Linked DNA regions of Homo sapiens. The protein of the gene in region 3 purifies or fractionates together with the protein of the main gene of each other region. This does not show direct contact. Each region holds a gene or a part of one and is shown on either strand. Other genes may lie near its edges. The genes, in order: RNASEL, RAB3B and HSD17B1.

What was found.
Region 1: the proteins of HSD17B1 (region 3) and RNASEL purify together in Homo sapiens (affinity purification with mass spectrometry; one large-scale study listed by BioGRID and IntAct). This does not show direct contact.
Region 2: the proteins of HSD17B1 (region 3) and RAB3B purify together in Homo sapiens (affinity purification with mass spectrometry; one large-scale study listed by BioGRID and IntAct). This does not show direct contact.

What each region holds. Positions count from the first base shown.
Region 1 is NC_000001.11:182,573,044-182,576,255, forward strand, and holds the end of RNASEL (2-5A-dependent ribonuclease), read right to left. Parts: intron 2,536-3,212; coding exon 2,349-2,535; 3' UTR 591-2,348; downstream 1-590.
Region 2 is NC_000001.11:51,935,073-51,938,722, reverse strand, and holds part of RAB3B (ras-related protein Rab-3B), read left to right. Parts: intron 1-1,310; coding exon 1,311-1,429; intron 1,430-3,650. UniProt on the Homo sapiens protein: The small GTPases Rab are key regulators of intracellular membrane trafficking, from the formation of transport vesicles to their fusion with membranes.
Region 3 is NC_000017.11:42,551,282-42,555,031, reverse strand, and holds the start of HSD17B1 (17-beta-hydroxysteroid dehydrogenase type 1), read right to left. Parts: upstream 2,110-3,750; 5' UTR 2,099-2,109; coding exon 2,002-2,098; exon of another isoform or gene 1,909-2,001; coding exon 1,741-1,908; exon of another isoform or gene 1,594-1,740; coding exon 1,414-1,593; exon of another isoform or gene 1,239-1,413; coding exon 1,145-1,238; exon of another isoform or gene 631-1,144; coding exon of another isoform or gene 628-630; coding exon 450-627; exon of another isoform or gene 364-449; coding exon 94-363; 3' UTR 1-93. UniProt on the Homo sapiens protein: Favors the reduction of estrogens and androgens. Converts estrone (E1) to a more potent estrogen, 17beta-estradiol (E2). Also has 20-alpha-HSD activity. Uses preferentially NADH.

The DNA.
Region 1 (3,212 bases), on a different chromosome or scaffold from region 3:
ACCTCTCTCCCAGGCTGCAGCTCCAGCAAAGACCCACCAAAAATCAAATGTTAAAGGTTCTTCTCAACCAGTGAATTCAAGGAGTATCTTATAACTTAAATACACTACACACTTATAACACACCAGGCACCAAGTGAGGAAATGGGATATGATCTCTGCCCTCCCAGGCTTATTGGAGAGACAGGTAAATGCCACCAACTGCTGAGTAAAGCACACAGGGATAGAGCTTTTACCCCTGAGCAAGAGTACAGAATCAGCCTGCCTAATACAGGACCTGATATGAACCACATGCTCAATGAAATGTTTGTGACGATGACAACTGAATGAGAAATGTTTGCAGAATGTCAACAGAAACTCTCAGAGAATTCAAGCAGACGGAAAAATGATCATTTCCTCCCTTCTCTCACTACATACTAGGCCCACATTATTCCAGAATTACTAGAAAGTCAAAAATAACTCCTTTTCCCATTTTCAGACAGCAGGATGACCTTTCTTAAAACTTATCCAGGAATTACTTAGTGAATATTTTCTATTGTAGATATCACCCACTCCTTAAAGTGGAAATGTCACTTAAAGAAAATCAGACTAAATAAGACAATTTAAAGTTTTATTGAGTAAGCTTCACAAATGGGCATTTTAATTGACATGTCCAGGTGCTCATTACAAATCAGAGAACCAAAGCTTCATTTTAAAAGTTAAAGCAATCTTGCTGCTCATAAAGTATTTTTTAAGCCTTAAATTTGTTCCTAATCAACATTTAATTTCATTCAGTGGTATCTATTTATCCATTGCTAGATACCTCCTTTTCAGAAAGAACCTAAGGTACTGTTTTATTCCCATTACAAAGCTCCATCTCAACCACCACAATGATTCATGGAAAGAACATCAGACTTAGCACCAGAAAATTTGTTCAAATCAAGATAGTAACACTTCCTAGCTATACGTCCTAGAGGAAATCAAAATGTTTCTAACCTTAGTTTCCTCATCAGCAAAATAGGGATAACAATGTTGACCTTAAAGGATTGTTTTGAAAATTAAATAAAATAAAATACTCAGATGTAATGTATACATTATAAAGCACCAGAAAAACGTAAGACAGTATTATTATTCATGTACGAAGATGGTTCATTCATTATTCAATGAATATTTATTAAACATTCCCACTTGGCAGACTTTTTGCTTGGCAGTGAAGATACAAAGTCAAGAAAAGACAGCCATCGCCCGTGAGGAGCCTACATTCCAGTGGAGGAACCAAAACTAAAAGGCGGAGGAAAGCTCTGGGTGCTTGGGAGCCAGAAGGAGCTCCTAGACTGGGTATGGGAAGTGAGGGAGGCCTGGGAGCCTCCTGTGGGGCTGACACCAGAAGGAACTCCATCACTACAGATCCAGCAAGAGTAAATAAATCTGAGTCCCTCCTCTGTGGGGTGGTCCACACACTCCACAGTCCTGGGCCTTAAGCTAGTTCAAAAGCATCCCAGCCCCTTAAGTCAGGTTTTCTCAACCTCAGCACCATTGATATTTTTGTCTGGATAATTCTTTGTTGCAGGGGCTGTCCTGTGCAAGGCAGGTTTGGCAGCATCCCTGGTCTTTACCCACTAAATGCCATAGCATGCTCCCCACAAAGCTGTGACACCAAAAACTTCTTCAGACTCTGCCAAATGCTCTCTTCAGTGCAAAATTGCCCCCCAGTTGAGAACTACTGCCTTAAGGTCATGGAAAACCAATGCAGTTGGTTCTGGAAGGAGTGGAATTCATGCATCCAGTGCCCAGACTTATACTAGATGCTCAATAAATACTGAATGAATGAATGAGATTCCTGGAACCCCTATATATGTTTTGGGCCTCATCTGGAAGAGCCCTGGAAGGATAGTTAAGTTTTAAGGTGCCCAAATGAGAGGTACCAATAACACCACATAAATTTATAAAGTGCTAGGTATAAATTGAATAATCTTGGGCCAGTAGCTCACACTCTCTGAGTCTCAGGTTCCTCAGTTCTTAAATGGGGATGATAATCCCTGTTTTGCAAGATCATTGGGAAAATTAAGTGAGAGAATTGTAACATATGCAGCATTAGGGGTCAAGGCACTCATTCTTTTGGTGCAATTGACAAAAGGAATCTTAGCAGAATGTCCTCCCAGTTAGTGGGTAAAGCTTATGGACTAGTGTAGTCTGGGTATATATTGCTTTTGTTATAGACATATGGAATACACGATGCCAGGGACTGACATATCAGCTATGCAACTCATCCCTCACAAGCAACCTGGTGAGTTAAAAGGCCCAGAATGTTGTGATTTGCCAAGGACTCTACAGCTAATAAGTAGTTCCCTGAACTCCAGCAAATCAGTCCATCAGCACCCAGGGCTGGCCAACCCACTGGCCCCACCAGCTCCATCACACTGAGGCTTGTTTGGACTGTGGGTTTGGGGGAAATGCTTTCTATATTCTGTGTTCTGTAGTTTTGTGTAGACATAGATCACCAGATCTGGAAATGTCTTCTGAAAATACAGGGAAGGGTCTCCAATTTTTAATTTCATCCTGAAATAAAACACAAATTGTTCAGCATGCTTGCCCCAAATTATTCTTCCCCGCTTCACAGCATATGGCCCTGAAGATCTCTTTGCTCGCTTGATTTCTATTGCAGAATGAATAAGGACTTTGGAATCTGACAGAGCAAGACTCCTCCCCTGACTCTTCAACTAATTGTGCAACCTTTGGCCACAATCTTTCTGAACTTTAGATTGTTCTTTCATAAAATGGAAATAGTGCAATGCCACAATCCTCTACCTACAATTCCAAAATCCAGAAGAGCCCTGAACTGCAAGGCTTTTTTGTGAGTTTGCAACTAACATCTTTGTCAGCAAAAGCTGATCTAACTAATGTGGGCTATTTTTAGACGTATATAACTCTACCTTCACTTTATCTAGCTGTCCAGTCTCCTGTGTTACTTCACAGAAGGGAGTCACTAGCTCCTGTTCAATTTGTTTTACCATTTATCCAACAAAAAAATGACAAGGAAGATGAAAGCCTGCTGGACATGTCCCTCATTAATTGTAAGGCAACAGTGATAGCCCTTTTACACACAGAGGGAAGGAATTACTTTTCTTTCATCAAAATAAATTTTCTTTTTTCCATCGTAGATATAAACTTAGAATTGGATTTTTTAAATTGTTCTCATTTCACATATAATTTGTAGGAATGAAAACAATACTTAC
Region 2 (3,650 bases), on a different chromosome or scaffold from region 3:
GCCTGGGCCACACAGTGAGACCCTGTCTCAAAAAAAAAAAAAAAATTACATGAAGAAAATCAAAATCTCAGTAATTCTTGTCTCTTATTCAGAGAAAATCTCTATTAACCTTTTGATGTGTTTCTTCTATTTTTTTCTGTGCACATATAGTTATAAAACTAATACATCACACATACAAGTATTGTCTCATATCGTTAAATATTCTTACATACATGAACTTACATAAAAATTCTTACATTTTAACCATTCTCCTATTGTTGAATATATAAGTTGATGATATGTTTTCACTGTCTAGATAAAGTTTTAACAAATGTGTTTTTGTACATACATATTTGTCTGATTTTCTATTTTTATAGGGAAAATTTTTCTAATTTTGTGGGAAAAATTCCCAGAAGGAATATTTCTGGGTCAAAGAGTATGAACATTTTTAATGCTCTTAAGACTTCCAAATTGATTCCCAGAAAGGCTAAACCAAGTTCCACTCCCACAAGCAAGATGTGAATTTGTATATTTCACTGCATGCTTATCAATCATGGGAATTATTATTAAAAATAAGGGGCTGGGCACAGTGGCACAAAACCTTAATCCCAGCTACTCGGAGACTGAGGTGGGAGCATTGCTTCAGCCCAGAAATTCAAACTTGCAGTGAGCTATGATTGTGCCAGGGCTCTCAGCCTGGGCAACAGAGTAAGGCTTTGTCTTAAAAAAAAAAAAAAAAAAAAAAAAGAAACAAAAATAAGGTTAAAACTTTTTATGTAATAATTACCCACTCAACATTTCTTATGTGCTTGTTCATGCCTCTTGTCCACTTTTCCTTTAGGATTTTAATTATTCTTATTAAATTCTATGAGATTTAAAAAATCATTTTAATCTAGTCAGCAAGCACAATACAAGACACATAATAGATGCTCCTTAAATATGCCTTGGGTTGGGCGCGGTGGCTCACTCCTGTAATCCCAGCACTTTGGGAGGCCGAGGCGGGTGGATCACCTGAGGTCAGGAGTTCGAGACCTGCCTGACCAACATGGAGAAACCCTGTCTCTACTAAAAATACAAAATTAGCTGGGCATGGTGGTGCATGCTTGTAATCCCAGCCACTCGGGAAGCTGAGGCAGGAGAATCACTTGAACCTAGGAGGCAGAGGTTGCAGTGAGCTGAGATCGCGCCATGGCACTCCAGCCTGGGCAACAAGAGCAAAACTCCATCTCAAAAAAAAAAAATGTCTTGGGTTATTAGTTAATTGTCCTGGGGACTTTTTAGGAACCAAAGCAGACTTTCTAAGAGATTGTTTCTTTTCTTTTCCTGCCCAGGACACAGCTGGGCAGGAGCGGTACCGGACCATCACAACAGCCTATTACCGTGGGGCCATGGGCTTCATTCTGATGTATGACATCACCAATGAAGAGTCCTTCAATGCTGTCCAAGACTGGTATGAGACCCATATTCATTCATTCATTTAACAAACTGTTCATTAAAACCTAACATGTGCTAGGTCCTGTATTGTGTGCTGGGGAAGCCCAGATGAATCAGACATGGTTACTGGCCTCAGGAGTTTACAGACGAGAGCAGAAGACAGATCCATAAGCAGGAATGAAAATATCATGTGATAGGCCGGGTGCAGTGGCTCACGCCTGTAATCCCAGCACTTTGGGAGGCCGAGGCAGCCAGATCACCCGAGGTCAGGAGTTTGAGACCAGCCTAGCCAACATGGTGAAACCCCGTCTCTACTAAAAATACAAAAATTAGCCAGGCGTGGTGGCACGTGCCTATAATCCCAGCTACTCAGGAGGCTAAGGCAGGAGAATTGCTTGAACCTGGGAGGCGGAGGTTGCAGTGAGCTGAGATCACACCACTGCACTCCAGCCTGGGCAACAGAGTGAGACTCTATCTTAAAAAAAAAAAAAGAAAGAAAAGAAAAGAAAATGTGTGCTAGGTGCAGTGATGAAGCGAGGCATCAGGGCTGTGGGAACCCAGCAGAGGGCTCTCTGACCCAGTTTAGGGAGTCAGAGAAAGTGCCCTGGAGTTGCTGACACATATGCTGCATTTTGTAAGATGAACAGGAGTTAGCCCGAGGGACAAATGAATAAGGATGTTCCAGAAAATGAGTACAGATGTGCAAAGGTGAGAAGGTAGGTGCGAGTGTTGAAGGGCATAGGTCATGAAGGGTTTTGTGTGCTGCTATAAGGAGTTTGGATTCTGTCCCATAGGTGATGACGTATGAATTAGAAACCAACAGGTTCACATTTGTGTTTCAGGAAGATTACTGTAGCTCCAGTGGAGAGTGAATCCACATAGCACTTAAAGTTTATCCCTGGGCTGAGCCAGGTGTCCAGGAGCACATACAGTCCAAGTTCATCAAGGCTCAATATGCAATGGAAATCAGTACAGCACCCCAGAGTTGCAACCTCTGAGCAACTTATAGCTTTCTTCCTGGGGCACGATTCCCAGGAGAAGGGAGCCTGAGGGGAAGGACACATGAGAGGGAGGGCCAGGACCCAGTGTCCCTGCTCAGATGAGGATGGGGGAAGGTGGGACATCTGTGTGGTGGCTGTCCTTCAGAATCGGAGAGGCTGAGCAGACCAGGCACACAGCAGCAGTGCTGGCCAGTGCTGGGCTTGTCTCCTTCTCCCTTTTGCCTAATGGTGACCTTCGAGGACTTCGCTTCTCCCAGGGAGCAGTTGTCATAATTGTGTTGGCTTCACATACACAGCTTGAGCTGAGAGTGACCTTGTGGGCTGCCTGCTGCACTCCCCTGTTCTGACCAGCAGTTCAGGGTGTCATCAGCATGTCTGTCATTCCTGGGGGTCTGTGTTCTCCTTTTCTGCCTCCTGGTTATCCTCTTCTTCCTCCTTTCTGTCCCTTCCTTTTAAATAACTCTTTCTTCCCTCTACCTTGGGTCTTTCTCCTCTCCTTCCTCTGTTCTCTTCCCCTTCCCTTTACTCTCTCCACTCATCATTTTCCTCCCTTCCTCCCCTCTCCCTGCTCCTCCTCTTCTCTCTCATCACATCTCCCCTGAAGTGTCTCCACGCTGCCCATTTCCCTGTTGGCCTTGACCCCCTTCCCTTCCTCCCTCAGTCTCTGTTCATTCTGCCTCAGGAACACGGTGACTTTAACACCTGGTGACGATTCCTCCAAGAATAACCTGAGTTTGTTGCTAACCTGGGAGCTGAGAGGAAATGGGGTGGGAGAAGGGAGGAAGATGAAAGAAAGAGTAGCATGGGAGATAAGGAGAGCTGGCCCCAGTTACCTGCCTTGAGTCTGAAGACTGAGGGTCTATCTCTCCCAAGCCCTGGCCTTTGAGTTTTGTCTGTGGGTAACTTGGTCTCAGTCTCACCCCTACCTGCCATCCAAGCCCCAGTGCCCAGAATGGGGCCTGGTTTCCTGTGGGCCCACAAGAAGTGGTGGTTGAGTGAATTCCATCCTTTGAGGGAATGGCTTCTCACCATAAATGAGAAGGTTGGTGGTAAGATCAACTTTAAGAGCAGGGTCAGTAGTAGGTTCAGGTTGCAGTTAGGGTTGAGTTAGGTTGTCAGTGTCAGGGTAGAGTCAGATTCAAGATCTGCTTCAGGACTGACCATTCACTGGCTCGTTCATTTATCAGCATTCACTGACACCTTCTTCGCTGTGTGTTCTGTGCTGGGTATTGGCAT
Region 3 (3,750 bases):
GCCACCCACAGCTGCTACCGCCGCCCCATCCCCAGGGACCACACAGACCCAGGGGACAAAGAAGGGCGCGGGAGACAGCGGCTGAGGAAGCCTTTACTGCGGGGCGGCCGGAGGATCGCCGAGCTCAGGGTCCCCCACCGCACCGCGCCCGGCCTCGTCCTCTGCCCCAGGCCCGGCCCCGCCCCCAGCCTCGGCCCCAGCCTCGGCCTTTGCCGGAACGTCGCCGAACACTTCCCGGTGCATGGCGGTGACGTAGTTGGAGCCGCTGGGGTCGTCCAGGCGCATCCGCAGCAGGGGCAGGAAGCGCTCGGTGGTGAAGTAGCGCAGGGTCGGCTTCGGGGCGCGCAAAGCGGTGAGGAAGACCTGCGGCGGCGGGAGGAGAGCTGTGGCCACCGCTGCGCGCCGGAGGACGCACCGCCCCCACTCCTGGAGTCCAGCCCGGCGCTCACCTCCGCCACCTCCTCAGGGTTCTGCGCCGCCTCGCGAAAGACTTGCTTGCTGTGGGCGAGGTATTGGTAGAAGCGGTGGAAGGTGTGGATGTCCGTGCGGTCCAGCACCTCCTCTGGGCTGCCCAACACCTTCTCCATGAAGGCGGTGTGCACTGGGCCGCACTCGATCAGGCTCAAGCTGCTGGCCGGAGAGCAACGAGTGGGAGGGGGCGGACGCCAGCCAGGCCCCAGTCCCAGCCCCAACCCCAGTCCCAGCCCCAACCACGTCCCGGCCCCCGACCGCGAGCAGCACCGCTGCGCTGGGAAGTGAGGCGGAAAGGGCGCTGGGGATAACCAGAACATTTGAAACGCGGGTTCCTGCCGGAGCAGCCCTCCCAAATCCATCTGAGGCTACAAGGGAGCCCTGGTGTCAGGATTCGAATCTAGCGGGGTCCCTGGCCGCTGTGTGACCTTGGGCCAGTCACCTAACCTCTCTGGGCTGGAGCTTCCCCATAACAATACCAACACTTCAGCAGCTAGGTCAGCAGGTGGCACAATGCGTGCCATGCGCCCAGCCCAAGTGCCTGGCACACAGCTAATGTGAGCCGGGCAGAGAGGGCCAGGGAGATCGCCCCAGAGCGGCTCCCGCAGGACAGGGTGCTCGGCGTCTCTAGGTCAGAGTTAAGAGGGTTCGGGGAACGGGGGTGTTGACTCACTGGACCCCAAAGGGCAGCAGCAGAACCGCCAGACTCTCGCATAAGCCTTCGAGCGCGAACTTGCTGGCGCAATAAACGTCATTGAAAGGCAGCCCTTAGGTGGGGAGACGAGGTTCCTGAGGCGCAGCGGCCAGGGGGTCATCCCCGGGCAGACGGTGCCCCTCCAAGCTGACGGCACCCCACTCCACCCCCCCCGCGGAACCTGCCTTCAAGGCTCAGCTCCGCACACAAAGAATCTGGAGCTGCCGAGGCCACTCCCTACCACTCACCCATCAATCCTCCCACGCTCCCGGTCACCAACACGCGTCCCGAACCGCGCCTCTTCATGTCTGGCAGGAAGGCCTGCAGCATCCGCACAGTCCCTACTACATTCACGTCCAGCACAGAGGCCACGGCGTCCTCCCCCAGCGCCTCCAGCGGCCCCAGCAGGCCCAGGCCTGCGTTACACACTGCGGAGACAAGAGGCCCGACCAGCCCGCCTCAGCATCACCCTCAGCACGGCCTGTCCCCTCGTGCTCCCTGGGCCTGGGAACATGTTGGTTTCAACGCAGGGCGGAGAAGGCTCCTAGGAGCCCATATGCTTCCAGGAGGCTCACCCAGCACGTCCACGCGGCCCTCAGTCACGCGTTCCCGGGCAGCGGCCACGGATTTTGAGTCCCTTACGTCCAGCTGCAACGTCTCCAGGGATCCCGGAGGGCATGCCAGGGCCCGGGCCGCCTCCCACAGCCGGCCCTGTGTTTTCAGGTCCCTCAACGTGGCATACACTGGAGGTTTTGGGAGAGGAGGAAGATCTGACTTCCCTTCTGGCCTCCAAGGGCTCCTCCCTTCTCTCCCTCCCTGTCCCTGCCTATCTATACCTTTGAAGCTCTGGGATGGATCTGAAGCCAGACGTACGGCCAAGTGCAGGCCGATGCCCGAGGAACAGCCGGTGATGAGCACCACGGTGCGGGCCATGGTGAGACTGTGGGGAGAGGCTGGGGCTCTGGGCTTGATATCACCTGCTTCGCCCCGCCCCGCCTGCGGGCCCCCACCCCTTGTTGTGTCTCCCACGCAATCTCAAGGATAAGCCTTCCTGCGGGTCCCTGGCCCGCTCTCCCCACCCTGTTCTGAGCCAAAACAGACATGAGCCCACTGCTTGGAACAACAAACTGTCCTGGTTGCTGGTCAGAGGGAGGGGAGGCTTTACAAGCAGGTGTGGGTTCCCACGTGGGCACAGAGTGGCCCCCTGGGCAGATTCCCCTGGGTATGCCTCTGTGCCACAGGAGCGATTATAGTGACCGCAGTTTGCTGCAGAGGCTGTGAAAGTAAAGGCGTTGGGAGGTGGGAGATGATTGTATATGTGCTGGTTTCGTCCAGGGTTCCTAGCTCATAACTCACATGACCATGGTTACAGTCTTACGTTGTCATGTTGGGGTGCCTCAGGCCTCAAAAAACAGCCTTTCGTCTCTCTGACCTTCTCCTGTCCTCTTTTCAGCTGCCCAAGGCAGGACTCTAATCTGATTGTGGGTTGTAGGATCCTCATTCCAGAGTGGGTCCTTGCCCCATACCCTGGAGAAAGGAATGCTGCACAAAGGCCCAAAGAATCTGGACTGGCCTTGCTGGGCTTAGATCAGACCCTTTTTGCCCAATCACATTATCACAGTTGTCCATGCTTCAGTCATGGACAGCCAATGGAGTTCTCCATAAAAGGCCCAAAGGACAGGGTTCGGGAGCTTCTGAGGGCTGAACGTGTGGAGGCTGACAGAATGTGCCCAGAGGGTGACGTAACCCCAACTCTATGGAGATAGAAGCTCCTGCTCTGGACCCTTCCAGACCGCCCTGTCTGTATCTCTTCATATGGCTGTTTATTTCTATCCTTTAAAATATGCTTTGAGGCTGGGCACGGTGGCTCATGCCTGTAATCCCAGCACTTTGGGAGGCCCAGGAAAGGGGATTGTTGGAGCCCAGGAGTTCAAGACCAGGCCAGGTAACAGAGTGAGACCCGGTCTCTGCAAAAAATATTAAAAAGCTTCCCAAGTAGCCGGGACTACAGGTGTGTGCCATCACTGCCACCATACCCAGCTAATTTTTTGACTTTTTTGTAGAGACGGGGTCTCACTTTGTTTCCCAGGCTTTTTTTTATTTTTGAGACAAAGTATTGCTTAGGTTGGAGTGCAGTGTCTTAATCTTGGCTCACTGCATCCTGCATCTGCCTGGTTCAGGCGATTCTCCTGCATCAGCCTCCCGAGTAGCTGGGATTACAGGCACCCGCCACCACGCCCAGCTAATTTTTAGTATTTTTAGTAGAGACGGAGTTTCACCATGTTGGCCAGGCTGGTCTCAAACCCCTGATGTCAAGCGATCTGCCCACCTCAGCCTCCCAAAGTGCTCGGATTATAAAAAAGTGCCACCCCACCTGGCCCTGTCATTTTTAGAAGATTATTTTATTTTGAGACGGAGTTTCGCGCTTCTTGCCCAGGCTGGAGTGCTGTGGCACGATTCTGGCTCACTGCAACCTCCACCTCCCGGGTTCAAGCAGTTCTCCTGTCTCAGCCTCCCAAGTAGTTGGGATTACAGACACGTCCCACCACATCCGGCTAATTTTTGTATTTTTAGTAGAGATGGGG